Homo sapiens: one gene and its partners. The protein of the gene in region 1 interacts with the protein of each later gene in a biochemical or structural test. Each region holds a gene or a part of one and is shown in the gene's direction. Other genes may lie near its edges.

Region 1 (7,025 bases):
AGCTGCGTAAGCAGTCAGCCTTCAGCATAACACGTAGGTTTTGACGATTAGTAGAAACGAGAAAAATAATCTGAGAAAGAGGTTGAGAGAGGAGACATGAAGGAGAAAAATAGAAAATATGCTTTTTAGATAATTCACTATGAATAAACAATGTTTCTCACATTATGGGACTGCTTTACAATTCTATAAAAGAAGGAAAAATCTGTGTTTTAAGCCTCAGCGCTGGATACTTTCTGCAATGTCATCCCTTGTCAGCAAGTACCAACCTGATAGGAAGATACTGATCAATCGGTATTCACCGGATACAGAAATGAATCCCATGGGAGTTATAAAATTTCATGGTTTTGTCTTGACCTCAATAAGTTTAGCATCTAGCAATCTTAATAAAAGCAATAAACAATAAGTTAATAAATAAAACCAGAATTAAATGCAATAAAACATTAGAAGACAAATTTTGAGGACATATGTGATTAATTTCCAAGTGAATGTAACCAACAATAAGTAACATAAAATCAGGAGGGCGATATCGCAGTGGACTGGAACAATCTGAGAGAAGAGGCAGGCCTTGAGATGGCTTTTGGAGGTTGCAGAGAGGTGGGAGAGTTCTGTTAAGCTGAAGTCACAACATATGCAGAATATCAAGTTAGGCAAGCCCACTCTACAGTTGGCAAACCCTGAAAATGCCCATTGATTTGGGTGGAGTGGGAAGCTTGGAGGGAATAGGCTGGGATGCAGAGTTGGAGCCTTCTGTGGAAGGCTTTGAATGTCAAGCTGAGAATTTGGTACTTTATCCTCTAAAGTTGATTTCTGAGCAGAAGCTGATATAACAAAGTAACCAGGTCTTTTTAATATCCAGAAATTACTATTGACAGAGTGGATTTAATTTGCATTCTTCCAGAAGTAGAGGGGAGCAAATTGGTATCATAAGAGATGGTTAATGAAAAAAAATCAGTCCTTACTGAAGCATCTTTTAAGACTACTTTTCAGGATACATATACCTACATAGACATATAATTCCTGCTTGGAAGTTAATTGCAAGTTTCCATTTTCCATTATTGACTAAATGAAATTATGCAAGTTGAGCACTTGCCAGGCAGACTGAAAAGAAAGTCAAGAATCTGGTGATGAGACACCCCAGAAGGTCCCAGAAGGTGCACTTGAATAATAAACATGGTGCTGAACACTCTCTTGCCCTCTGTGAATATTCAGCATTGTCAAGTGCACTGACGGGAGGAATGAAAAAAGTTGTCATTTCTTCTGAGCATGTTTTGAGCAGCATGACATATAGGACCAGCCCCAAGTGGCTAAAAATGGGAGGAAAAAGATGGAATGGTAGAATTTTGAAAAACTGGAATGGGTAGTATATCAGATTTCTTTCCCTGCCTATTTTGCTGACTCTTGCTAGTTACCCTCACTTCAGGGCTACCTCGAGGTCTGGATTACACCCATTTCCTTTCTAACCTTGTGGTTACTACTCTCACAGAAGAGCTTCAAAAATCCAAATGCTGACAGAATTGCTAAGCCAAAATAGTCAGTGGGTTCATGTAGAGGAAGAAATGGCAACGGTAGATACAGATTTTACTGCCATTTCATTTCTGGCTATAAGGTATCAAGAGACTATCCTCATCTATTCTTCACTAAAACACTGGCAGTAGAGACACCACAGGATAACATTTTTATATCCAAGCTGACTACCTAGGGGAAACTTAGAGGTAGTGACATTTGATGCTTTAGGAGGTCAGGTTGGTGGTTATTAAACTGAGTCCAGGGGCTACACAAGCATCAAGTAAGGTGAAGGAAGGAGATATGACATAGCACTGAGGAAGTAGGACATGATGAGGGGACAAAAAGTTAAAAAAAAAAGTCTTACAAGAGGAAAAAGACTTCATAGAAATTTCTAGAGAACCCCAGCTACACTGTGAACTCCTCAGAATTGCTATTATTGCCTTAACAATAATACCTACTCTTTCTACATAATTTTCTTCACAAGACTCTCAAGCACTTCACCCAATATGAAAGTCCAAGGAATTTCTGATTTCTAAATAAATAGTGCAACCCACAGACACATATGTTCAGATATAGTATTAGATCACATTTAGTAAGACATAAATTGATTTAGAATGACAGAGATACCCAAATCAGTGATTAATCAGAATGGGCTTATGGGGAAGAATGTGACACTCATTCTAAAAGTGTTTACCTATACTGGCTCACTGTATCCTCCTAACAACCTTGTGGTCAGATTACTATTATTATTTCCATTTCGCAGATGAAATAACTGATGCACAGCAAGGGTAAGTAACTTGTCGCAGAGCAGAGCCAAGACTTAAATGTAATCAGTCTGACTCCAGAGATTAAGCTATGAAGTGTATTTTATGCTACCTCTTGCATCATCCATATTTTTCATATTGGCCAAATAAGGCATAGAGAATGTACATGTCTTTTTTTTTTTTTTTTTTTTTTTTTTTTTTTTTTTGCAGTCTTTTCCTCCTCACTTGGGTAGCAAGGCCTGAAGGTAAGGATGCTGGTCAGAGCCAGGAGACCCAGCTCTAGCCCTGAAACAACTGCTTGTAATTTCCTGTTTGGAATTACACAGTCTTTAAATTAGTCAGTGCACCACTGTTGAACTTGGTTTCTTTACTGGCAGAATGATAGAAGTGGACTAATGATGTCCAATATCCCTACCATTCAAAAATCAATGAAATCAGTGCTGAAAACCCCAGGCAATGGGTCCTGGCCTAGTGACCGATGGCCTCAGCTGGCATCATCTTAATAATGCTTCAGTAACTGATCTGGACCCAATTGGAAGATTAATTACATTCATCGCCTCCCTCATCCCAATCCTTATTTTTTCCCCCCTCAGAATTGCTTGCCTTCATCTTTCTGAAGCCTTCTCAGAGTTAAGAAATCCTGTCTTCTTCCTCAAAGCCCTATTCTGAGTCATCACTGCTTTGGGTATCTCCTGTCCTTCTCAATCAGATTTGTAGCTATCTAGCACATACTGTCTCCTACAACCTGCCTAAACTTTGTATAAATTTCTTTCTAGACCTCTTCTTGATCATCTCGTGTGTCTGACTTAGCAATGTATTAGCTGCAGTTCCCTCACTCATCCTCTTACTTCTTCTGCCGCTTAGCAAAGAGGAAACAGAAGCTTTTATAGAATCTGTGAGCTGTAAAGTACTTTAAAAGTAACATTCCTGTGTGACCTGAATCTCATGATACTGATAGCCAGCTCAAAAACTAATCACATTGGGAGGATGTGGGGTAAAATGACATCACAGGAAAGCTTTAAAAACATAGGACAAGGAGAGAAGGAAGCTTTAAAGCCTATGAGGTCAGAGGTCAGCAGTTGGTGGTACAATGTTGATTAATTAAATTCATAGTCACACATCAAATAAATTCACATGTCCCGGAGGGGAAAAAAAAAAAACACATTCGCCTTGTCACAACCTACTGCAGATTTCAATGTCTTTCCACCAAGGTAAAACATGGTATCACAAGAGGAAATCCTAACTGATTTTCTTATTGTTGACTACAGAGGTCAACCTCAGCAGTGACTGACTTACTGGTAAGAACAAATCTGTATCCCTAAAAAGAGATGGGGGGAAATCCTATTTAAGGATTAGCATTTCCTTCTAAATGCTTAACAATGATTCCAGAGAAATTCAGTCAAATGATGCCTGCTCCCGAATGATGCTGAATAACAGCTGTACTGGGCTTATGGCTTGCTTTCTTTGGTTGTGGAAAAATATATTTCATCCTCTTCTTTGCTGTTGTTGATATGGTTCATATTACTCAAAGATGTCTAATTCTCATGTCTTAAATTGAGACTGTTGGCACTTTCTGCTGACTCATTGTGTCTTAATCTTCCAAGGTGGTCCATTTTTACTTAAAGAAAAAGGTTATTTTCCTCCAAAGTGGCAGGTTCTACAAAATGACCATCTGGTCCCAGCTTCCCCATCACTTCCTTTATTCAAATGACACTAGTCACAGATCTTGAACTTGAGAGATGACTTTCCATGCCTGTAACCTTGAATCAGTGGTTTCTGTCCTTTACTGATAACAGCAAGTAAAAAAATGAAAGTCTCTTAGGTGCCCCCCTGAGGCCAGAGTTCAGCCCTACACTCCTGCCTCATTCCTTTTTCAGAGAATTTTCTCAGTTGAGCTCTGAAAATCCTGCAAGTTGGACAGAGTTCCCTTTCCATGAAGAGTCTCAGACCAAGTTGTTAATCTCCTTTATTTATGTTCATCTTTGGTACAGTTTCAAAGAATAATAACTGGCAAATTCCAAAACAGTGAATTTCTTAAATTTCCCTGCAGTTATTCCGAAGTTGGTCTGGCAGCTAGGTATAGGTAAATCACACTGTGACTTCTCTATCAATAAACAGAAAATGCACAGAAATAAATGCCAGAAAGACTGCTAGGAAGAACACTGGCAAACTATTTCAATACGCATTAGCCTTGTTGAGTGAATTTTTTATTTTAATGGGAAAGTCCATTCCTAATTTATGCCAGAGAAATTGCTGAATGTATCTACTTTTTCCAATTCCATGATCACTGCCCATGTATTGCTTCATCATAAATCAGCTGCTATTATGGCATTCTTCATTAATTAATCCATTGAACAAATATTTATTGAACACCTGCCATGTACCAGGAAAACATACACTGGTTCCTAAAGTCAGAGCTGTAAATAAAATCATCATGTTTCTGCCCTCCATGTGTTATGCTAGGTGTCCCCTCTTGAGGTGTCATTATTTTAAAAGGCATGTTTCAATGGGATGCCTTTTAGAATCTAAGACATTAATTCAATGTAGAAAAGAGCTATGGCTCTCTAATCAAAATATACAATCTATTGAAGGTTTCTACTGAGCTGTCAGTATCTACAGAGAGATTGCTATATCATAAACAAATACATATTAAGAACCAGCCTCAGCCATCACCGAACTCAGTAAATATCTAAGGTATGTCTTTGTGTGAACTTGTCTCTATTTACATGGCAATCAACTAGGATGTCACTAAAATGTCCCTTAAATACATGACTATATTCCAGTATCCCAATCTGTTGGGATCTCTCCCTGTAGAGACCACTTTCTGCCGCTCATGGGAGGAAGGGGTCAAGCTTTAAGAAACATGGTACCTCCTGGGCCAGAAATCCTATTCCCAACTCCAAAACTCATGGAGCAATGCAAGAATAGGTTGACTAAGAAAGGATCCTTTGGATGAGAGTACTTCCCAATCCAATCCACTTTCCTCCTCTGAAAACTTCCTGTCATTAAACAAAGTTCAGTGATTCGGGATCAAGTAGAATTATGTAGTGATTCTGGATCAAGTAGAATTATGTCTTAATTTCCCAAACTCCTACTTCTAGAAATTCACCTCTTACCAATGAGCAATGCCCCTATCTCCCTTGTAAGATTGATCACACTGCTTTGTAGTTACCTACTTATGTATTTCTCTTTCTTAATAGACTTTGGAAGTCTTTGAGAGCAAGGGTAATATCTTAGCTTTCTTTGAATCTTCAGTACCTATAACAGTGCCTGCCACACCCATGTATGCAGGAAATAAGTGAGCGAATGGGGATACCAGCTACCCCTTTGCAGAGAAAAGAATTCTACCACTGTAAGTAATCCTGCTTTTTATTGATCAAATGTTATGATCAGAATAACTCAGGAATTGTTGTGTACCCTTGCACATAGATTCATCCTAAATATTGGAATAAAATTATGTCCCAAGGAATTACTTAGGTTTACCCTAACTAGCTGCCAAACTATGGCAAATGGTATAATATTCTAATCTGTTGTTTTATCACTTATGAGTCAGGAGTTAAAATGCTAACGAAGGATCAAAGGATTCTCAATAAAGGCATTGCTAAAATCAGGTTTATATTCAGAGATTAAAAGCCATTCACTAAGAGCATTTAAAGTCAAGCAGTTTAGCATATATGAATTATAAGTTTAAATGTTTTACTGTTCACTAGGATGAAAAGGATATTTCATACATCCATTTGAGACATATATTACATTCACCAGTGGGGTAGATTTATGGCTTTGGCCAACTTGTGTTTTCAGGGTCACATATTTGCTGCTGTGCTATTAGAATTGGCATGGTGGACACAAGTTTTTCATGTCAATTCCGCTTCCTTAAAAGTGTCCTTCAGAGACACCAGTCTCTGGGCTTTTCCTCTCAAATAGTCAGTGTCCTCTTGCCTGGGAGAGAATCATAAGCCTGGGCATGATTTGGTAAATAAGTCCCATTTGTCCTTAGAAAAAAACCTTCACCAGTTGAGCATTGAATTTTGCATATCTTTTTTCCCCATTCCTTCTCATGAAAACACGGGTTACTCTGCATCCAACTTTCTCCAGAGAAGACTGAAGATACTACCACTTAATGACCACAAGGAAAAAAGTAACTAACTTCCTAAATGTCTACTGTGTGCTGCACTGGGCACTTGATGTATGTTGTTTCCTTTATTTTCCATGGCAGCCTTAAAAGAGTTCGGAACACTTGTCTCTGACTGCAAAGTCCATGGTTTTCCCCACCACCCCATAAATTATCCCATGAGTTGCACAAAATACATTGAGATCCTCTAACAGAAAGCACACTGCTGATACATAGAACGTGAGTCAGCCAAATCTAAAAAGCTGAGTCCTCCAAGCTAAATAGCCAGGTGAGATATGGTGGTGTAAGTGACCAGAGAAACTATGTGTCCAAACAAGTTCATGGAGCAATGGGTGGAGAGTCAGCTGGCTGCATGCCAGCTCTGCCACTTCAATTGTATAACCCTGAACAATTTACCTAATCTGAACTGAGCCTCACTTTTATTTACATCTGTAAAAGGAGAGCAATTGCTGCCATGCATATATGTCAAGTGGTTGTCGTGAGACCTAAAGGAGCTAATGCTTGTGAAGTAGTTACCTCCACCACTCTGAGAAAGAGGAAGGGACTGTTGTTATGTTCAGTTACCTGCTATTTGCCATACCAGATTTCCAGGGTTCTTTATTATAGGTTACATGAAGGCCATA
Region 2 (7,617 bases), on another chromosome or scaffold:
ATATATACTATATATACGTAGTATACATACAATATATACTATATATACGTAGTATATATACAATATATACTATATATACATATATACATACATACATATGTGTATATATACTACATGTATATACTATATACATATGTGTGTATATACTATATACTATGTAGCATATACATACTATATAGTATATACTATATATGTGTATATGTAGCACGTACTATATGAGTATATATAGCATGTATATCCTATATGTGTGTGTATACCACTTGTATGTACTATATGGGTGTATATAGCTTATATGTACTATATGTGTGTATATAGCATGTATATACTATATGTGTGCATATAGTATGTATATACTATATATTTACAGTGGATGTGTGTGTATATATATATTATATATATTATATATATAATGTATATATAATATATAATATATATATATAAATTATATATATTATATATATAATGTATATATAATATATATAATATATATATAAATTATATATATATGTAATATATATTATATATATATTTAGACAGGGTCTCATTCTGTTGCCCAGGCTGGAGTGCAGTGGCACAATCACAGCTCACTTCAGCCTTGACCTCCTGGGCTCAAGCAATCCTCCTGCGTCAGCCTCCTGAGTAACCTACAGGCACATGCCACCATGCCCAGCTAATTTTTAAAAATTTTTTGCAGAGACAGTGTTTTGCTATGTTGCCCAGGCTCCAGTCAGATTTTCTCGGGAATGTAACTTAGCCCTTTGTTTCTCTTTTCTTTCTTTCTTTCTTTCTTTCTTTCTTTCTTTCTTTCTTTCTTTCTTTCTTTCTTTCTTTCTTCCTTCCTTCCTTCCTTCCTTCTTCTTTCTTTCTTTCTTCCATATTTCCTTTCTCCTTCCTTCCTTCCTTTCTTTTTCCTTTTTTCTCCTTCCTTCCTTTTTTCTTTCTTCCTTCTTTTTTCCTTCTTCCTCTCTTTTTTCCTTCTTCCTCTTCCTCTGCCTCTTTCGCGTTTTCTTCTTTAAGTTTTTTAAACATTTATTTATTTATTTATTTATTTTTTAGAAACAGGGTCTTGCTCTGTGGACCCGGCTGGAGAGCAGTTGCATGATCACAGCTTACTGCAGCCTCCAACTCCTGGGCTCAAGCAATCCTCCCACCTCAGCCTCCATGTAGATTTCATTCAATTTTAGTGTTTGGCTGTTATGATGGTGTTTTGAACGCACTGTTGTGATCTGGTTGATGTTTTGACCCCAAAAACACCTTGACTGCATATGTATGTATGTAATATGAACAAAAATGATAAATTACACATTATTATTTATCAGGGGAAATTCAGCCAGATATTGGGCAAAATTCATCCCCAATATTTCACGTAGGTTATTTTCTATTTCCCCTAAGTGTTGGCCGGTCTGAGAAATAAAGGGACAGAGTACAAAAGAGAGAAATTTTAAAGCTGGGTGTCTGGGGGAGACATCACATGTCGGCAGGTTCCGTGATGCCCCCTGAGCCATAAAACTAGCAAGTTTTTATAAGCGATTTTCAAAAGGGGAGGGAGTGTACAAATAGGGTGTGGGTCACAGAGATCACATGCTTCACAAGGTAATAGAATATCACAAGGTAAATGGAGGCAGGGCGAGATCACAGGACCACAGGACCGGGGAGAAATTAGAATTGCTAATGAAGTTTCGGGCAGGCACTGTCATTGATAACATCTTATCAGGAAACAGGGTTTGAGAGCAGACAACTGGTCTGACCAAAATTTATTAGGCGGGAATTTCCTCGTCCTAATAAGCCTGGGAGGGCTACAGGAGACTGGGGCTTATTTCATCCCTACAGCTGCGATCTGTATATACATATAGCTTGTATGTACTATATGTGTGTATATAGCATGTATACACTATATGTGTGTGTATAGTATGTATATACTATATATTTATAGTGCATGTGTGTATGTGTATATATATATTTTTTTAGACAGGGTCTCACTCTGTTGCCCAGGCTGGAGTGCAGTGGCACAGTCACAGCTCACTTCAGCCTTAACCTCCTGGGCTCAAGCAATCCTCCTGCCTCAGCCTCCTGAGTAGTCTACAGGCACATGCCACCATGCCCAGCCACCCCCAAAGCGGCCATTTCAGAGGCCTACCCTCAGGGATGCTTTCTCTTTCTCAGGGATGTTCCTTGCTGAGAAAAAGAATTCAGCAATATTTCTCCCATTTGCTTTTGAAAGAAGAGAAATACGGCTCTGTTCCGCCTGGCTCACCGGCAGTCAGAGTTTAAGGTTATCTCTCTTGTTCCCTGAACATTGCTGTTATCCTGTTCTTTTTTCTAGGTGCCCAGATTTCATATTGTTCAAACACACATGCTCTACAAACAATTTGTGCAGTTAACAAAATCATCACAGGGTCCTGAGGCGACATACATCCTCCTCAGCTTACGAAGATGATGGGATTAAGAGATTAAAGTAAAGACAGGCCTAGGAAATCACAAGGGTATTGACTGGGGAAGTGATAAGTGTCCATGAAATCTTCACAATTTATGTTCAGAGATTACAGTAAAGACAGGCATAAGAAATTATAAAAGTATTAATTTGGGGAACTAATAAATGTCCATGAAATCTTCATAATTTATGTTCTTCTTCCATGGCTTCAGCCGGTCCCTCCATTCAGGGTCCCTGAATTCCCACAACGATTATTCACAACTTCATTTTTTTTCTCTGGCAGGATAAGGAAAGTTTTGAGGTTGGGCATGGTGGGCTCATGTCTGTGGTCCCTGTGCTTTTGGAGGCTGAGGTGGGAGGATTACTTGAGCCCAGGAGTTCAAGGCGGCAGTGGACTATGACCATGCCACTGCACTCCAGTCTGGGAGACAGAATAAGACTCTGTCTCAAACAAACAAACAAACAAACAAAAAGTTTTGGTTGCCAATTCAACACCATCCAGCTGCTGCCAATATTATCATATGTTTTTGAAAAATCCACTGGGAGAGAGGGAGAAACGAGGGAGGGCCCAGTATTTACCAGAGAGGGAGAATTAAAATGGTGGTGGCAGAGGCAAGAAGGCCGAAAGAAAAGCACTTGCCTGTTGCGGGGTCCAGGAGGCATTCTGGTGGGGAAGTTCAGGATATGGAGAGAAAAAACATATCTTTTTTTTTTTTTTGGAGACGGAGTCTCGCTTTACTGTCCAGGCTGGAGTGCAGTGGTGCGATCTTGGCTCACTGCAAGCTCCACCTCCCGGGTTCAAGCAATTCTCATGCATCAGCCTCCTGAGTAGCTGGGATTACAGGTGCCCGCCACCACACTCACCTGGACAACTGGCTGTCAAGACCTTCCATCGGGTAACAGAACCACATCACACCTAGAACCAAGTCCAAAACGTCCTGTTTTTTAATGTGTAGCCTGTTGCTCTCAAGCAGATTTCTTAGCGCTGCCTTCTGGTCAGACCAAAGCCACCTCCTCCAGGAGGCAGTAAAGACTTTAACCTTGTTTAAAAACAAATCTGGCCTTGCCTTCTCCTCCTGGAAGGCAATCTTTGTTTGCCTGGGAGTCTTCGGCTAGCCAGAGAGTAACAGTGTGATTTATGGTGGGGGCTTAGGGTTACATGGATATCACTTAACCAAGAGGCTGAGATCAAGCATGAAAGCAATCAAACAATCAATCAATCATGCACATGCAATGGAGCCCAGTAAACGTTCTGCACACTGTGGCTCAAGTGAGCTTCCCTGGCTGGCAGTACTTCGTGTGTAAGGCCACACATCAGTGCAGGGCAAGTAATGAGGCCTGACTACACAGGGAGAGGACCACGGGAGGACCTTGAAGCTGCACGCCGTAATCCCCAGACTCCCCCTCTGCCCTTCTTCCTTGGCTGATGTTAATCCGTATCATTTTCCTGCTAAGAAACCATAGTTGTGAGTACAGTAGTTTTTAGTGTATTCTGTGATTCCTTCTAGCAAATTATGGAACTTGAAGGTGGTTTTGGAAACCGCCAGAATTTGCCGTTGGTGTCAGAGGTGATAATGGTCTTGGGGACTGTTCCCCCAACCTGGGTAGTTCACCTAAGCTCCTGCACCTTCATGACGACCTCTCTGCCAGTTCCGTGCCCATGCCCTTACTTTCTTTTCTCATCTATCATTTATTTGTCTGTGTCTGTATTGCCTGTTTCTCCTGCCAGAATGGTATCCCAGGGCTGGGCCTGCGGACGCTCTTCCCGTTACCGCCCCCTGCCGTGTTATGCTCCGTAAGCATCATGTGTGGTACACGATCTCTTCTCCTTCATTCACACCCGAGGCTGCGCGTGGACCCTTAAAGAGAAGGTTCGGCATATGTATTACCCAAAGCTGCACCCAGCACATTCCGGGAGCTTTGCTCTTTTGTCACTATTCGTTGAATGCTCTATATTTTGATAAATAAAACAATGAGTGTGAAAGCATAAAAGCAGATCAAGGGACAAACAGCACGTGTAGCGGAACTGCCAGCCTGGGGCTCGGCCGGACCCCGCCCCTCCCCGCCTAGGCCCCGCCCCCAGGCCCCGCCCCTCCGGGCTCCCGCTGGAAAGCGCTGCCGCCGTGTGGGTGGGTGCGGGGCGCGGCGCGGGCCGGGCATGCGCAGAGCGCGCGGGGCGCGGTTGCCGTGGCAGCGCCGGCTCCAGGGAGGGCTGCTGGCGCCGGGCCGGGACCGCGGGGCCTGAGGCGGAGACCGGAGAGCCCGAGGCCCGGCCGGAGGCAGCTCGGGACAGGCTTGAGCGGCGGGGCGCGCTGCCCGGCCGGCGGGGATGCGGGACCGGCTGCCAGACCTGACGGCGGTGAGCGGCAGCCGCGGGTAGCGGTTCAGGCCCGGCCGGGGCGGCGTCTGGAGGGCGGGCGGGGGCTCGGGGCGTCTTGGGCGGGGCTCCGGGAGGGTCCCCAGGGCGGGGATCTCCGGCGTTCTGGGGCGGGGGCTGCGGGCAGGGTCTCAGGGAGTCCTGAGCGGGGACTGCTGGTGGGGTCCCCAGGGCGGGGGTCCCGGGAGTCCTAGGGTGGGGGCTCCGGGCGGGGTCCCCAGGGCTTCCTGGGCGGAGTCCTCAGGGCGGGTTGGGGCAGGAGGAGGGAGCGGGGAAGGTCCCGGCCTCGACCCCCTCTTCGAGCGTGGCTCCCTGTCCGTCACTCCGCTTGGCGGATTGTATCTGGCGCTTACCCAGCCGGAGCCCACTGGCCTAACTGTGGTCCGCCCCACGGGGTCCCCGCAGCTGGCGTCAGCCCCGGGGAGCAGGCCGGGTCCTCTTGGTCGCTGCTTTATCCCTGGGGCTTCACAAAGGACTGTGCACCAAGCGGGAGGCAACAGATGGGTGTGAAATGTGGGCACCTTAGAGTGCTGGGTGCTTGGGGTGGGGCGAGCGCGAACAGCAGCTTGTGTCTGATCTCCCAGTAGTTTGCTTTGGAAACTGGGACCGTGTGTTGACTCTGAACGCACCTTACGCGCCCAGCAGCCGGGCACACAGCAAGTTACTGTTTACTTTAGCAAGGGAAAAGCAGGTCACTAAAAATTTTGGAAGGATTTCGATGCATTCTACACGTGTAAAGGTGACAGGACTGTGCATGGTGCAGTGACAGCGGAATGATAGTGATGGTCGTGCACTTTCCAAGCTTGTCTAACCCAGGACGGCTTAGGCCAGCAGAAGTAGTTATGACTTTTTCCCTTTACAATACAGGTACTAATTCATGCTACGTGTGTGCACAGATAGAGCCTCTGGTCTCTAAATTGTTGGCAGCCTCAGAACAGGGGTGCTAAGGCCCACAGCCCTACGACACCCACTGCATGTAATGAATTATTCTCTCTCCTCTGCTGCTAGAATGGAGCTGTTATGTACCCCCGAGTGGGAGAATAGAGAAAAGAGCCACTTAAATCATTATCTGTGTTCTGTGGTTCAGATGAGGAGCTCTGGTTGAGAAAGGCAATGATTTCATCCTTAGGATCATGGAAATTATGCTTTATATTCATTCCAAGGAAGTTTCTTCACGGTGATTTTTCCTTTTTTATTAATGGACAAATATTCCCTGTGTTCCGCAGATCAATATCATCTTAAACACAGCAAATTATAGTTGTGTTGTCTTGCCCGATGGATTATCTTTCAGTGCCGTGTAGTAGGAGCTCAGGTATTTATTTAATGAAGAAAAGCTGTGGCTCACTCCTGTAATCCCAGCAGTCTGGGAGATCAGGGTGGGGGCATCACTTGAGCCCAGGTATTGGAGACCAGCTTGGGCAACACAGGGAGACACTGTTTCTCGAAAAAAATTAAAAAATTAGCAGGAGGCCAGTCGCAGTGGCTCATGCCTGTAATCCCAGCACTTTGGGAGGCCGAGTTGGGTGGACCACTTGAGGTCAGGAGTTGGAGACTAGCCTGGCCAACATGGCAAAACCCCGTTTCTACTAAAATAGCCGGATGTCATGGCGCACACCTGTAGTCCCAGCTACTCTGGAGGCTGCGGCAGGAGCATCGCTTGAATCCAGGAGGCGGAGGTTGCAGAAAGCCGAGATTGTGCCACTGTACTCCAGTCTGGGCAACAGAAAGAGACTCTGTTTCAGAAAAACCAACAAAACAAAGCACGCACAAAAAAACTATCCAGGTGTGACTCGCACCTGTAGTCCTTGGTACTCAGGAGGCTAAGCTAGGAGGATTCCTTGAGCCCAGGAGATAGAGGCTGCAGTGAGCCATGATTGTGCCATGCCACTGCACTCCCGCCTGGGTGACAGAGTGAGACATTGTCTCATAAAAAAAAAAAAAAAAAGCTCAATGTCATTGAACGTGAGAGCTGTGACTATTTTGGCAAAATACAGCCAAATTTATATGTTGGGGAATCGTGAGAAAGTACGTTTTCTTGGCTTGAATAGCAAAAAGCAAATAAGGCAATTATTTGTCACTCAGTTTCTATATATCCAAACCCTTCCTGAAACAGTAGAACATGTCAATCAGTTTTGTTCTAGAACGGCAGAGCTAGAAGTCAGCTCATCTACTTCAATACCATCCTGCTTTAGACACAGCAGCTGAGCAGTCAGAGAGTATATCCGTGGAAGTTTCCACTCATGGAGTTTCTCATCTTGGGCAAATAATTTTTAAATCTCTCAAAACTTTTTCTTGTACGTGAAATGGGGACAGTGGTATCTCTCTTGTCCACCTCATAGAGGGAGTTATGAAGCATAAAATTATCTAATGTGTGAAGCTCTGGGAGAAGGTGGGAGGGAGCAAGTGCTATGTAATTATAAGTGTGATTAATGTTTACCAGATTTTTTGTTTTTAGGGAGTTATAAAAAGCAGCCTTCTGGCTGGGCACAGTGGCTTTCACTTGTAGTCCCAGCACTTTGGGAGGCTGAGGTGGGCAGATCATTTGAGCTCAGGAGTTCAAGACCAGCCTGGGCAACATGGCAAAACCCTGTCTTTACAAAAAACATACAAAAACTCAGCCAGGTGTAGTGGTGCATGCCTGTGGTTCCAGCTACTCAGGAGGCTGAGGTGGGAAGATTGCTTGAGTCCAGGAGGCGGAGGTTGCAGTGAGCCAAGATTTTGCCACTGCCCTCCAGCCTGGGCAACAGACAGATTGAGACCCTGTCTCAAAAAAAGAGAAAAGAACAACCTTCTCCCTAGTATAAAATAG
Region 3 (7,025 bases), about 39 Mb from region 1:
TTATCCCAGAAACCAAATCAACACAGTCCATCTGGGTCCACGAGCTGTTTAGAGGACGCACGCTGCCTTAGGCAGTCACTGGGGTCTACACAGCTACTCCTGGCTTCCAAAAGCAACCAGTACAGAGGTTAGGGATGGGGTTGACCATAAATTACCTGAATAATAATTTATTTATTTGAGACAGAGTTTCCCTCTTGTCGCCCAGGCTGGAGTGCAGTGGCTCAATCTTGGCTCACTGCAACCTCCGCCTCCCGGGTTCAAGCGATTCTCCTGCCTCAGCCTCCCAAGTAGCTGGGATTAAAGGCACCCACCACCACACCCGGCTAATTTGTGTATATTTAGTAGAGATGGGTTTCACCATGTTGGCCAGGCTGGTTTCGAACTCCTCAGGTGATCTGCCCACCTCGGCCTCCCAAAGTGCTGGGATTACAGGCGTGAGCCACCACACCCGGCCCTGAATAATAATTTAATAACATTATATATTAAGTGGCTTTTAGGTGAGTACTCAGTTACCTTCATCTTCATTTCAGAGAAAAGGAAATAGAGGCTCAGAGAGGGGGAGTGGCTTGTCCAAAGCCACACAGCTGGGGAATAATAGCCTTGGGACTCAAACTCAAGTCCAAAACCAGCTATAAATAAATGTAAAGAAATGTGGAGAAATAAATACAATTAAAGTTTAAAGTGATTGTGCCACTAGCTAAGGGCATTTTGAGTTCAATGAATTTTCATTGCAGTCTTGCAATGATCCCTGTCTTACATATAGGGAAACTGAGGCACAGAGGGCTTAAATCACGTTGGGAAGTTCCCCAGGCAGGAAGTGTGGCCCTGATTCTAAGGGCCTCACTGAGTCTGGGAAAGAAAAAGTTCTTGCAGGTGGGGTCAGGAGGGGTGGGGCAGGGGAGACCCCCCACACTGCATTACCGCATACGCTGTGTGATGCACATTCACACAGACCGATGGCAGGTGTGCTCTGACCCTCCCAACCCAACCCTGAGCAGCAGGCACTCCCCCACACCCTCCACCTTGGAGTCCAGTGGAGCCCCTCCCCCTGCTTTGCTCGTTTCCTAGGCTTCCTTGGGCTGAGGGAAGGGGAGAGGGAGGGCACAGTCTCAAGTACAAAAGGGGTGCCTGCTTTAGGTCTGTACAATAGCTGGGTGCATAATTCATGCATCTGTCGCCAGAACATCAATTATGTGGGCCTTCCCTGGAGTTGTCTGGGGGTTAGAAACCAAAGCAGGCTTCCCCTGCTAGCCTTTGGGGGAAAATAAGACTGCCCAGCTCTTAAAGGAACAGACTCCCAGGGAACCCATTCCTCCCTGTGCAGGCGCCCTCCTGCCAGAAGTCACCAGACGAGAGCAGCTTCCTGTAGGGCTCAGCCCAAAGCCCACTGGCTGCCCACTCTGACCCACTCTGTGTCCCCAACTCCACAATTGTGAGGGGCTGACTATTGGCATGTCCCAGAGTTTCTCAATCTCAGTACTGATGGCATTTCAGGCTAGATCATTCTTTGCCGTGGGAGCTGTCCTGTGCATTGTAGGGCATTTAGTGACATCCCAGACCTCCACCCCCAAGATGTCAGGAGCACCCCTCCCACCAGTTGTAACGACCAAAAATTTCTGCCAAAATTGCCAAGTGTCCCCCAGGAGTAAAAATCATCCCCTTAAAAACCACTAGTATGTCCTCATTTTACAAATAAGGAAACTGAGGCAGTGAACATTTGGATGCCCAAGGCCATTCCACCAATGAATGGCAAGAGCTAGAATTTCAACTCCAGGACCCACACTCCTCAGCTCAACACAGGAGCACCAAAAAGTGTGCTGCCAAGATGTTATTCCAACAATTACATATTTATTTTGGTGAATATTTAATACATATAGCCCTGGCATGAAAAATCAGCAATTTTGCATATGATTTCTTAGAATAAAGCTAAAATAAAATAAAGAAGGTGAGTGGGCTTTTTTGATTTTTTGTTTTTACCATTAAGGAAAGAGTGATACAAGTAGCAAAATACATACAGTATAACGTCAAAACTGAGCAAAGTCCAGGTGCGGTGGCTCACGCTTGTAATCCTAGCACTTTGGGGGCCCTGGTGGGAGGATTGCTTGAGGCCAGGAGTTCAAGACCAGCCTGGGCAACATAGTGAGACCCCATCTCTACAAAATATAGCCAGGCATGGTAGCATGCACCTGTAGTCCAAGTTACCTCGGAGGCTAAAGCAGGAGGATCGTTTGAACCTAGGTATTCGAGCTGTGATTGCACCACTGCACTCCAGCCTGGGCCACAGAGTGAGACTCTACCTCTTAAAAAAAAAAAAAAAAAAAAAAAAAAAAACGCAACAAAATGACAATTTAGGGACCCATATATTCTTATTGAAAATCATACAGAGAAACAAAGGGACGAAAAACTGCACACAGAGGTTATCTCTGGAGTGGGAAAGACACAAAGGAAGTGTCAGTGTTACTGCTGCCTGCTCTGTCTCTCCATTTGGGTGGCGGGTTCTAGGTGTTCATTTGATTATGGTTCATAAATTATATATAAATTAGGTCTATTTTTGTATATATCAAACATTTTATTTTCTTTATTTTATTTTTCAGACAGAGTTTCACTCTTGTTGCCCAGGCTGGAGTGCAATGGCATGATCTCAGCTCACTGCCACCCCCACCTCCCGGGTTCAAGCAATTTTCCAGCCTCAGCCTCCCGAGTAGTTGGGATTACAGGCGCCTGCCACCACACCTGGCTAATTTTTTTGTATTTTTAGTAGAGACGGGGTTTCACCACATTGGCCAGGCTGGTCTTGCACTCCTGACCTCAGGTGATCCACCTGTCTCAGCCTCCCAAAGTGCTGGGATTACAGGTTTGAGCTACTGCACCCTGCCTCAAACATTTCATTTATAAAGTATTACAGAATCTTCCTTTTTCAATGGGTGCAAATCAAGAAACTCAAACCTATTTTTTTTTAAACATAGGATGTGTCAGACTTAACTATAGCAAAAAAATCAGAAGTTATGGAACCCCTGAGGCTGGGGAGGCACCACACCTTGGAACATTCCCTTTCATCTTCAGAGCTGGCCCATCAGGGCACTGGCACTCTCTTGCCCCCTGTGGCATCCCCAATGTCTGGCCTAGTGCCTCACGCAGAGTAGATGACCAAGAAATATTTCCCAGGCCAGTGCAGTGGCTCACACCTGTAATCCCAGTGCTTTGGGAGGCCAAGGCAGGAGGACAGCTTGAGCCCAGGAGTTCGAGACCAGCCTGGGCAACAAAGTGAGATCCCATCGTTACAAAAAAGGTTAAAAATTAGTTGGGCTTGGTTGTGCTCTCCTGTATTCCTAGCTACTTGGGAGGCTGAGGTGGGAGAATTGCTTGAGCATGGGAGTTTGAGGCTGCAGTAAGCTATGATCACACCCTTGCACTCTAGCTTGGGCAACAGAGAAAGATACTGTCTCTAAAAAAAAAAAAAAAAAAACCTGAATTCTGGTACTGACCCTTCTACTTCTAACTCCATGAACTTGAGCAACGGCCAACAAATACTTGGTGAGCACCTGTCAGGTGTCCCACCCTGGGTTAGGTGCTGGGGGCACATAGATAAACCTCAGAACCCATCCCCATCCTCCCAGTACTCACCAATTCTGGGCAGCAATAAGCACACTCACTCACGTGCACACACACACACGCATGCACACACACACACGCACGCACCTGTGATGGGATATGAGTGGTAAGTATCCCCAAGGTATGGTAAAATGGTGAGGAAACCCAAGGATGGAGCAGTCAACCCTGCCTGGGGAAAGCAGGGAGAACTCCAAAGGGAAGGGGTCACATGGGCTGGATTTGAAAAGATGGATTGGAGTTCACCAGACAGCAAGCAAGAAGCTCGGACATGCAGAATTGACCAATGATAGTGTGCGGCTAGAGGAGTGTGAATTTTGAGAACCGATGGCAGGAGTGGCCAGAGAGAGAGGTCAGAGTCAAAATGAGAAGGACTTGACAACCAAGTGTCCTTACTGGGGATTCATTGCAGGGCCAGAAACCTCCCACACTCACCCATGTAGCAATTGGGTTGACTTACAGGATACAGCAGACAGTCTCAGAACAAGGACAGGAGGCAAAGACCGAGACCGGGCCACCCCGAGGCTGGTGATCTGAGTGGGTGGGGTGATGTGGGCTGAGATTTCCCCTGTGATGACAGCTGGCATCTATTAGACACTCACCGTGTGCTGCTGGAAGCTGTCCTAGCACTTTGCCTGTGCTAACACATTTCATCTTCACAGCAGTTCTCTGAGGTAGATACTGTTATTATCAGCCCATTTGCTAGATGAGGAAACTGGGGCTTAGAGAGGTTAAATAACATGCTCAATGTAAGGAAATGGCAGAGCTGAGGCTTGAACCTCAAACAGGCTGACACCAGAGCCTCAGCTCTTAACTGCTGCCCTCGGCACCCTGCTATGACCCTCCTGCGGTCCCCACTCCTCCTTCATCTGCACCTTCCCTTCATTCTCTGGCTTCTCTTGAAGGTTCAGCTTTCTTTGTCTTTTTCTTTCGTTTGTTTGTTTGTTTGTTTGTTTGTTTTTTGAGATGGAATCTCACTCTGTCGCCCAGGCTGGAGCGCAGTCGTGCAATCTCGGCTCACTGCAACCTCTGCCTGCCGGGTTCAAGCCATTCTCCTGCCTCACCTGCCAAGTAGCTGGGAATACAGGTGCCGCCACTATGCCCGGCTAATTTCGTTTCTTTTTTTTTTTTCCTTTTTCTTTTCTTTTGTTTTCTTTCAAGACAGGGTTTCTCTCTCTGTCACCCAGGCTGGAGTGCAGTGGTGTGGTCATGGCTCACCACAGCCTCAACCTCCTTGGGCTCAAGAGATTCTCCCGCCTCAGCCTTCCAAGTAGCTGGGACTATAGACATGTGCCAATACACCCAGCAGATTTTTTTATTTTTTGTAGAGACGGGGTCTCACTGTGTTGCCCAGGCTGGTCTCGAACTCCTGGGCTCAAGCAATCCCCCCACCTTAGCCTCCCAAAGTGTTGGGATTACAAATGTAAGCCACCATGTCTAGGCTAAGGCTCAGCTTTCTCTGATGTTTTTATGGCATCTCTGTCCCCTACATTTGGGAGACAGTTGCTTGAGGGTTGGGCTTATCATGAAGCTGATTCAAGCCTAGATTCTACTTAACATTTAATTCAGGGACTTACCCTCCCGTAACCCACTCACCGCCTGGGTTCCTGAACTCAAATTTCTCAAAGGTAGGCTGGCTAAGCCCCAGTGTACGGATTGGCTTAACTTGGATTTTTTTATCCAAACTTCATGCTCTGATCATTGGCAGGCAGGATCAAATGATACAACCATGGTGACCAGGCCCCCCCCTTCCCACTTAGCAGGGGCAGAGGAAGAGAAAGGGAAAATCTACAAAAGCAAGACAGGTATAGGGGACCCAATAGACAGGTTTAGGGGTTTGGATTTTTTCATGAGGAGCCCTGGAGATTTATTAAACAAAGGAGTAATGTGATTGGATTTGTATTTTTGAAAAAAAAAAAAAAGACCCTCAGAGCAATTGATTACATCTGTTTGCTTTTCTGCATAGTCTGTAGACTGGCCTACTGGCCTAGATTCCATTAATTTCAACATATATCCATTGAGCCCTTTCTCTGGGCCAAGCTCTCTTCTTGATCCAGGGGACTCAAAGGTAGTTAAGCCAAGGTCTTTAGCCCCCAAAAGCACATAGTTCCAATCAGGAGTTAACATGGGCCCAGAATGTCTGTGCCTCCCTAGGAATTACCTGCAAAATCTTGAGTGTCTAGGCATTTTTCTAGCAAAAGGTTAGCTTTCATCTGATTTTTTTCCCCTTTGTTCTTCTATAGAGACAGAGTCTCACTATGTTGCCCAGGCTAGACTCGAACTCCTGGCCTCAAACGATCCTCCTGCCTAGGTCTCCCAAAGTGCTGGGATTACAGACATGAGGCACCATACCCAGCCAAATCTGATTTTTAACACAGCCTTAAGAGCTCATGTTCTTGGGTCACACAGACCTGGGTTAAAATGCTGGCTCTTCCACTTACTAGCTGTGGAAACCCAAGTGTCCGCATCTGTTCAATGGAGCTAATAGCACTGAACGGGGTTATTATAAGAATGAAATGAGCTATTTCATGGAAAGTGCCTAGCACACAATGAACACTCAATCAAGGATAGTTATTATCATTAGTATCATCTCTGTGAAGGTAGTTCCCCATCCAGTGTGAGCCACTGGTCTAGATCAGAAGTCAGCAAATCATGGTTCACAGGCCAAATTCAGTCCACTGCCTATTTTTGTAAATAAAGTTTTATTGAAACACAGCTATGCCCATTCATGTATGTATTATCCAAGGTTGGTTTTATGCTACAGCTGCAGAGTCGAGTCGTTGTGACAGACAATGCAGGGTTTCAGGGCCTATAAAATGGTTACTATCTGAAAAAGTATGCTTGAACCCTGGGCTTGCTGATAGCTTTAAAACATTTCATTTCTCTGGGCCTTGGTTTCCACATCTAGACAATAAATGGATTACAACAAATTCTCTTTTTGGCTCATTAAATGACTAGTGAAATGTGAAAATGCTCTTGAACATTGAGGAGTGCCCTGTAGATCCAGGATATTATGATGATCATCCTGTGGGGTGGTTGATAACTAAATCCCACTCTCTTCTCCTCACAGATCCTTGCCATAATTTCCATCATGTTCATCGTCCTCTCCACCATTGCCCTGTCCCTCAACACGCTGCCTGAGCTACAGAGCCTCGATGAGTTCGGCCAGTCCACAGACAACCCCCAGCTGGCCCACGTGGAGGCCGTGTGCATCGCATGGTTCACCATGGAGTACCTGCTGAGGTTCCTCTCCTCGCCCAAGAAGTGGAAGTTCTTCAAGGGCCCACTCAATGCCATTGACTTGTTGGCCATTCTGCCATACTATGTCACCATTTTCCTCACCGAATCCAACAAGAGCGTGCTGCAATTCCAGAATGTCCGCCGCGTGGTCCAGATCTTCCGCATCATGCGAATTC
Region 4 (7,618 bases), on another chromosome or scaffold:
GGGAGGATTATTTGGCCTACCACACAATGCCTGCACCTCCTCTGTTATTGCCTGAAAATGTAGCCAGTGGCAGAATAGGGAGCCAGATAGGCTGGTGCTGGGGCGTCGAGGGTATCAGCAGACACAGCAGCAAATCTGGAGACTAGACCCACTGTAAGAGATGATGGATTTCAGTTCTAATCCATCAGTGAACCCAGAATCCAGTGAACCTTTTGAGGCAAGAAACGTAAATATCTAACTTGGCATTTTCCTAGCATTCCCCAGCTATAAGCTAGGCAGTTTAGAAAACAAGGAATTCAGACTCTAGACCCTGCTCAATAGGTTCACCAATTAAAAGTGTCAGTCTGAGGAGAAGCAGCATGATGATGATGGGAGGCACACTCTGAGGGGAAAAGAAACAGGGTTAGGGAGGAGTGAGCCACTGTCCCAGATTAATAGAACGTTAGAACTGTCCAAAGGATCTGAGATATCCTTTAGCCATGTTCTAGGCCTTTTAGGAAGTTTTCTGGAGCAGGCCTTACGCTTTATACCTGGTTTACTGCTTTATCCACAACATCACTGTTTTAGTTGCTCAAGAAATACTTGAATGATGTACTAGAGTAGAAACTCTGGTTAGAAAGGTGAGTTGATATGTTCAAGATCAAACGGTTGGTTTGCAGGAGAGAGGGCATAGACTGGTTTTGAGTCTTTGTTCTACCAAATTTAGGAGGTACCTTCCGTAAAATGAACTCCTGCACCAAATGAGGCTTCTTGTATAATTTCTCTCTACCTTGCACATAGCATTTCTTCCTTCTATATGAAATTATTCATATAGAATAATTCTATTCATTTAATAACCTATTTATTTAATGTCTAAAACATTAGTCAAGAGACCTGAGTTCTGTTCCCTGTTTCCCCATTCACTTCCTTGGTGTCTGAGACAAATTACTTAACCTGTCCAAACTCCAGTTTCTTCAATCATGAGAGAGGCTGAGGTTCCTTCTCAGCTCGCACATTCTATAATTCTAAATTTCATGGAGGCTAATGAATTAATAAGCTCCCTGCTATGGTTTGGGTATGGCTTTGGACCTGCAAAGTGTCATGTTGAAATATGAGTCCCAGTGCTGGAGTTGGGGCCTGGTGGGAGGTGTTTGGGCCATATGGATGAATTCCTCACAAATGGCTTGGTGCTATTCTCCTGAGAGTGAGTTCTCATCCTTGAGAACAGGTTGTTCAAAAGAACCGAGAGTCAGCTTCTCCCTTTCTCTCCCCTGATGCCCCATCTTGCACTGTAGCCATGTGATCTCTGCACGAAGTCTCCCCTTTGCCTTCTGCATGAGTGGAAGCAGCATAAGGCCCTCATCTGAAGCTGACAGCCTGCAGAACCATGAGTCAAATAATCCTCTTTTCTTCATACATTATCCAGCCTCCCGTATTCCTTTATAGCAACACAAACAGATTAAGACCCTCACCCATGGACCATATGTCTGCATGTCCTCATATCAGTGTTCCCAAAAGTGTGATCAGCCACCACCAAAGTCATCTCAGGTTGGCCAAGCATGGTGGCTCATGCCTGTAATCCCAGCACTTTGGGAGGCAGAGGTGGCCTGGATCATTTGAGGTCAGGAGTTCGAGACCAGCCTGGCAAACAAAGTGAAACCCTATCTCTACTAAAAATACAAAAATTAGCCGGGTGTGGTGGTGCATGCCTGTAATCCCAGCTACTCGGGAGGCTGAGGCAGGAGAATTGCTTAAACAAGGGAGGTGGAGGTTGTAGTGAGCCACGATTGTGCCACTGCACTCCAGCCTGGGTGACAGAGTAAGACTCGGTCTCAAAAAAAAAAAAAAAAAAAATCACCTGAGATCCTTTACATATGCTGATTTTTGCAGTTGTTAAGAATAATGAATCAGATATATGGTTTCCATTAGGCCATGCTTCCCTTTTCACTCTATAGGCATGCTACACATAAAAAGTGATAATATTTATGTGGCATACTAGGGGAAGAAACCTTAAGACTGTCTCTCTGACAATGCACATCTTGCTGAGAAATTCTGCCATACGTATTGAGAAAAACAGCTGCAGAAAAATATACATATGATCTAACTTTTTCAAGACAATGCCAAAGCTCAGTATTAGAGTGTATGCATATCTGCATGAATATGTATTGTTTTTATACAATTACATGTTATTTTATGTAAGTGCAGATATACACTATTACAAGAATATTTAAAGAAATGTACTAGGTTGTTAATGTAGGGGAAGAGAAGAGGGAATACACGGAATAAAAATTTTTGTAAGTGAAAAATTCAATATGTATGTCATGACTCCATTTATACATTTATGTAAAATAATGTATAGAGATGTAAAAAATAAAAAATGCAGATCCAGAGCCCCTACCTCAGATCCTTTCAAGCGTAATCTTAGCAATAGGAGGTATGGTAAGGTGGGTGTCTGCATCTTCAACAGGTATTCCAAATGATTCTATAACAGTAAAGTCTGTAAACCTTTGCATTAGGTGCAAATATCATTAGCTGTAAACAGAACATAGTTGGAAATTTCCATCCTGCAATGCGGGCTCAGCTGACCCTCATTGTCTTGGAACATAGTAGATGCATAATAAATAGTGCAGATTATTTTGAGTCATTTGGAGGACAGGTGGAGGGAGTGAGGGCAAAAGTGGTGAGAGAAGCAGATGAGCTGGGCAAGGACATGCTTGCTCAGGAGAAGGGAGGCAAAGCGTATAAGAACATACTGAGCCTCCTTGCCACTTTCGACGTTCAACCAATATTTGTTAGGCACTAAATATACATGCAGGACACTTTTCTGTATGTTGTTTCATTTAATTCTTAAATAATCCTTTACAGACTCAGAGAGGTGAAGAGAGTAGCACAGGTAGTATCAGAATTGGGATTCAAACCTGACACATACACTGAGCACTAAGTTAAAACCGGGCACTGGGCAGCTGCTGAGGATGCGATGGTGAGTACAACAGACTGCTTGCTCTTTTTGATATCTAGAATCGTACAGCTCTGCTGTGCTCATCCTTGTCTGTTGTCATTTACTAGTTGACATCTTCGTTGACTACCTAGAAGCAGCTGCTTCGACATCTATCCCAACCTGAATCCCGTCAAAGGGAGATTACAACAAATGTGCTTTTTGTCTATCATCTCTAGCTAGTGTTTCACAGTGGGGGGAGTATCATTTCCTGGGTGACTTTGCATAGAGCAAGCTCCCCAAAGGCCAAGGAATACTCAATCTAGATTCTTCCAATCCTCCGGTACCCACCAAGTCAAAAGAATTCTGGCTCCCTGTAGCTTCATCTAAGTGCTTTTCTGTTAGAGGAGAAAAGTGAGGAAAGCGATGCTCTTTCAATAAGTTCGGCAGGGTGGGGCAAGGAATGGTACAAATTGATTTTTTTTTTTTCTTGAGACAGAGTCTCGCTCTGTCTCCCAGGCTGGAGTGCAGTGGCCCGGTCTCGGCTCACTGCGACCTCCACCTCCCGGATTCAAGCGATTCTCCTGCCTTAGCCTCCAGAGTAGCTGGGACTACAGGCGTACGCCACCACTCCCGGCTAATTTCTGTATTTTTAGTAGAGACGGGGGTTTCACCATATTGGCCAGGCTGGTTTCGAACTCATGACCTTGTGATTCGCCCGCCTCGGCCTCCCAAAGTGTTGGGATTACAGGCGTAAGCCACCGCGCCCGGCCGGTACAAATTAATTTAACACATCTTTTGATAATCTCATCCTTGGTGTTGGAAAAGACGGGAAAATCCAAAAGTGTCTATTTTGTGCCCAAATGCTCAAGTTAATACTCGAGGGCCTTGATCTCTGGCCTCTTGCCATCCCTCTCCCCATTATTTCTGAAGAAGTAGCCATTTTGCAGATTCCGGAGGATGGGAGCCACGGCCGGCCCCTGGTACTGAATCTCATCTCCTTCTCAAGGCTCCTTGGATCAAGTTGGGACCGGCAGCGCCAAGGCTGCTCTCCGTGATTTAGCAGCAACCTAGAGTCAGAGAGACCGGAAGATGGGAGGCCGGGATTCTCAGGTGGGGTCAGGGGTATGCAAAAATCCTTAGCAGCGGCCGCGCCCCCGCCCCGGGGAGGTAATTTGCGGAGGGCGGTGCAGTAGCCTCTCCAGTGCCCGCGTCCCACGGTCTAACGGCACTGCTCCCGGGGTGCGCGGCCCACGACTCAGGCTGCCTCCCCCAACCTGACAAGTGTGCGTCCTTACCACAAAATGCCACCACTTCCCTAAGTGACGCTGGGCCCCGAGGACCTGATTTGAAATCGGTGTTCAGAAGACCGAGCCCGGCTGGACGCAGCTGGCCTCCGGCTGAGAGCGGAGGGGAAGGGTTCCATACTCTCCGAGGATCCCGCGGGCTCGTGGCGTGTGGAACGCTTTTCATCGCTTTCAGTTCCCGTTTCCTTCGCCCCGACTGCCTACTCGGTCGCAGCTAAAGCCCGGAGCGTGGGATCCGGGCCCGGAGGAACGGGATGGCGAACGCGAGCTGCGCCGCGGCCAGGAGCCCGCCGCACCGGGCATGCTCAGTGGCGCGGCCGGCTGGGTGGCCCGCGAGCTGCACCCGGATCTGCTCGGCGGCGGCGACGTGAGCGCGCAGGGGGGCGGCGGCCTCGCCTCGTCTCTCTCTCTGCGCCTGGGTCGGGTGGGTGACGCCGAGAGCCAGAGAGATGTCGGATTTCGACAGTAACCCGTTTGCCGACCCGGATCTCAACAATCCCTTCAAGGTGAGCTTCGGCCCCAGCATCTCCTGCCGCCGCGACGCGTCGTTGTTTGTGAAAACGGACGAGTTCCTTCGCGCCCACTGCGTCTGCCCCTCGGCTCCCCTTAGCAGCCCAGAGAGGGGCGCGGGGCCGCCGTCCTCCATTTGGGGTCGCGCCCCGGCCCCGTGTCACTCCTTTGGGTTTTGGGGCTTGGGGGTGGAACCTCCTCAGCTCGTGCCCGGTCGCCCTTCCACACGTCCCCGACTGGTGAGGGTCGTGTCTGCAGCCGGGACTGGGCCCGCGCGCCCGGAGGGGTCCTGGCCCGCCTCTCAGGAGAGAAAGCCGAGGGCAGGTAGAGTCGCCCCTTGCCAAGCAAGTGTGGCTGGCAGGGCCGGGAGTCGGCGGAGGGGGGCCCGCCCTGGGGTGGGGTTGTCATGGGGACCCGAGGTGGCGGCGGCGGAGAGCTGCGTGGGGTGATGGCAGAGGTGTGGAGGAGGAGAGAGGTGAGGGCACCGAGTATGCTGCAATTAAAAAAAAAAAGGTTATGTTTTTATTTTTTAAACTTGTGTTGCACCCAAATACCACCAGTGGCGCTGCCATCCCCCCTCTTTCTGTTAGGTTGAGGTTGAGGTTATTGATACCAAAGCAAAACTTAAAAATAAACATATCTGGAAAACAATAGTGCACGTGGACGACCTCTTCCCTACCCAGCTGCTTCTAGCAAGGTAAACGATGGGATATTTTCCAAGCTCCTAGTGCGTCACCGGTTCTCTGGGCTATGTGAGGATACCATTTCCTACTTGAGCTGCTTTTCTTCTTGGAGTCGACCTTATCAACCCCGGCTTCGGAAGGGCTTGGCACAGAATCCTGCAAAGGAAGGCGGCTGAGATATTCATCGTCTGCGTTTAAATGAATGCAACATCTAAATAACTCTCTCTTTGAAAGTATTCTGAATTTCCTAATGAGTGTAACTGTTAGCACGTGTAATTTGTTTCCAACTGTTGGTTGAAGTTGTTTCTCAATCCCCCCGGCCATGTGCAGTAGTAACTTTAATTTGCAGTCACACAGAATAAAACAGGAACTCTAATTTGTGGTCACACAAGTGTCACTTCTGGCTTGTTGAGTTTACATCTTTTTACTCCTGGTTTTATCTTTCATTAAGAATCCTGGAAGAGGAAAACTATTTCTGCTCTGATTATTAAATGCCTGATAATTCCAAGGAGGATTATTTTAATGAAATGACCCTGATTATTATTGACAACTCGACTCACTTTGTAGCAGTGTAGAATTAGACTCAGTCACTGTTTCATTGTCCCTAATGTCACTTAAAATTCAGTACAACTGGCCTGTACCTTTCAGTGACATGGTTGCATTTTAAGACTTTTTTTTTTTTCCTGGCAGTTTTGTTTCAATTAGTATTGGACTTGCTTCCATGTTGTGGAAAATCAGGTAGTTCTTAAATGGTAGACTTTCTAAAGAGACCGTTCATAAATTGTTAAATGGGTGTTATTTTAAAATATTTTGAAGATAAAACATCAAGAACCTTTTAGCCTTTCCTAATTCAGATAATTCACTGACGCTGTTTATTCAGCATCTGACGATTTGGCAGTGTATTTTCTACTTGGTCATTCCATTTCATGGTTCATTTCATATTAACTGGCTCTCTTGTTAGGGCAAAACATTGTCTTCATCTTAGCCCAGACTGTCCTTTTGTGACATCTGATATTGCCATGACACTTTTCCTCTTCTGACATTCATAAAGTTGCTGTAGTAATTCTAAACCCAGGAGTTGTTTTAAATATTCATTGTGGCATAACGTTATAAATCTTTTTTGTTCTTTTATAAGTGGATGTATCCAGGACAATGATTATTCAAGTTTGTAAAATGCATCAGGGACAGATCATTTAGGTCTAAAGTAGACTTGGTTGTACACATATTTCTGCTTATGATCTTTCTCTGTTTTTGGTGACTGTTATAGCACTGTCAGTGTATCTGACCCTTTATTTTTCCATTTATGTTCACCTGCCCCTCCTCCTCACAAAGTATAGTTTTATATCTATATTTTGTCTTTTTACTTCTGCTTATATTTATGTAAAAGTGATTTTTGAAATAACATTTCTGATACTCTACTTAAATCTGAAATGTTTCTAGAATCATTTGAGTTACTTTATGATCATTTTTCTTTTTTTACTTTTTTTTTTTTTTTGAGACGGAGTCTTGCACTGTTGCCCCGGCTGGAGTGCAATGGCGTGATCTCAACTCACCACAACCTCTGCCTCCCGTGTTCAAGTGATTCTCCTGCCTCAACCTCCCTAGTAGCTGGTATTACAGGTGCCCGCCACCACACCCGGCTAATTCTTTGTATTTTTAGTAGAGACAGGGTTTCATTGTATTGGCCAGGCTGGTCTTGAACTCCTGACCTCGTGATCCACCTGCCTCAGTCTCCCAAAGTGCTGGGATTACGGGCGGGAGCCACTGCGTTCAAGCAGATCGTTTTTCTTTCTTTCTTTCTTTCTTTTTTTTTTTGAGACGGAGTCTCCCTCTGTCGCCCAGGTTGGAGTGCAGTGGCGCGATCTCTGCTCACTGCAAGCGCTGCCTCCTGGGTTCACACCATTCTCCTGCCTCAGACTCCCAAGTAGCTGGGACTACAGGCGCCCGCCACCACCGGCTGATTTTTTGTATTTTTAGTAGAGACGGGGTTTCACCGTGTTAGCCAGGATGGTCTCGATCTCCTGACCTCGTGATCTACCCGCCTTGGCCTCCCAAAGTGCTGGGATTACAGGCGTGAACCACTGGGCCCGACCCATTTTTCAAATCTGTTTTTATTTGCAGTATTTGAAGATAAAGCTCTTATTTTCAAGTATATGATATTTCGCATTTGGTAACTATGCTAATTTCTTTTTCATTAAATCCTA

Evidence for each region.
Region 2: the proteins of SNAP25 (region 1) and STX2 form a complex in vitro, tested with the Homo sapiens proteins (one study listed by BioGRID).
Region 3: the proteins of SNAP25 (region 1) and KCNB1 form a complex in vitro, tested with the Homo sapiens proteins (one study listed by BioGRID).
Region 4: the proteins of SNAP25 (region 1) and SCAMP1 form a complex in vitro, tested with the Homo sapiens proteins (one study listed by BioGRID).

What each region holds. Positions count from the first base shown.
Region 1 is NC_000020.11:10,221,817-10,228,841, forward strand, and holds part of SNAP25 (synaptosomal-associated protein 25), read left to right. Parts: intron 1-4,861; exon of another isoform or gene 4,862-4,964; intron 4,965-5,470; exon of another isoform or gene 5,471-5,622; intron 5,623-7,025.
Region 2 is NC_000012.12:130,836,243-130,843,859, reverse strand, and holds the start of STX2 (syntaxin-2), read left to right. Parts: upstream 1-4,609; 5' UTR 4,610-4,760; coding exon 4,761-4,790; intron 4,791-7,617.
Region 3 is NC_000020.11:49,374,647-49,381,671, reverse strand, and holds part of KCNB1 (potassium voltage-gated channel subfamily B member 1), read left to right. Parts: intron 1-6,679; coding exon 6,680-7,025. UniProt on the Homo sapiens protein: Voltage-gated potassium channel that mediates transmembrane potassium transport in excitable membranes, primarily in the brain, but also in the pancreas and cardiovascular system.
Region 4 is NC_000005.10:78,356,002-78,363,619, forward strand, and holds the start of SCAMP1 (secretory carrier-associated membrane protein 1), read left to right. Parts: upstream 1-4,615; 5' UTR 4,616-4,670; coding exon 4,671-4,727; intron 4,728-7,618. UniProt on the Homo sapiens protein: Functions in post-Golgi recycling pathways. Acts as a recycling carrier to the cell surface.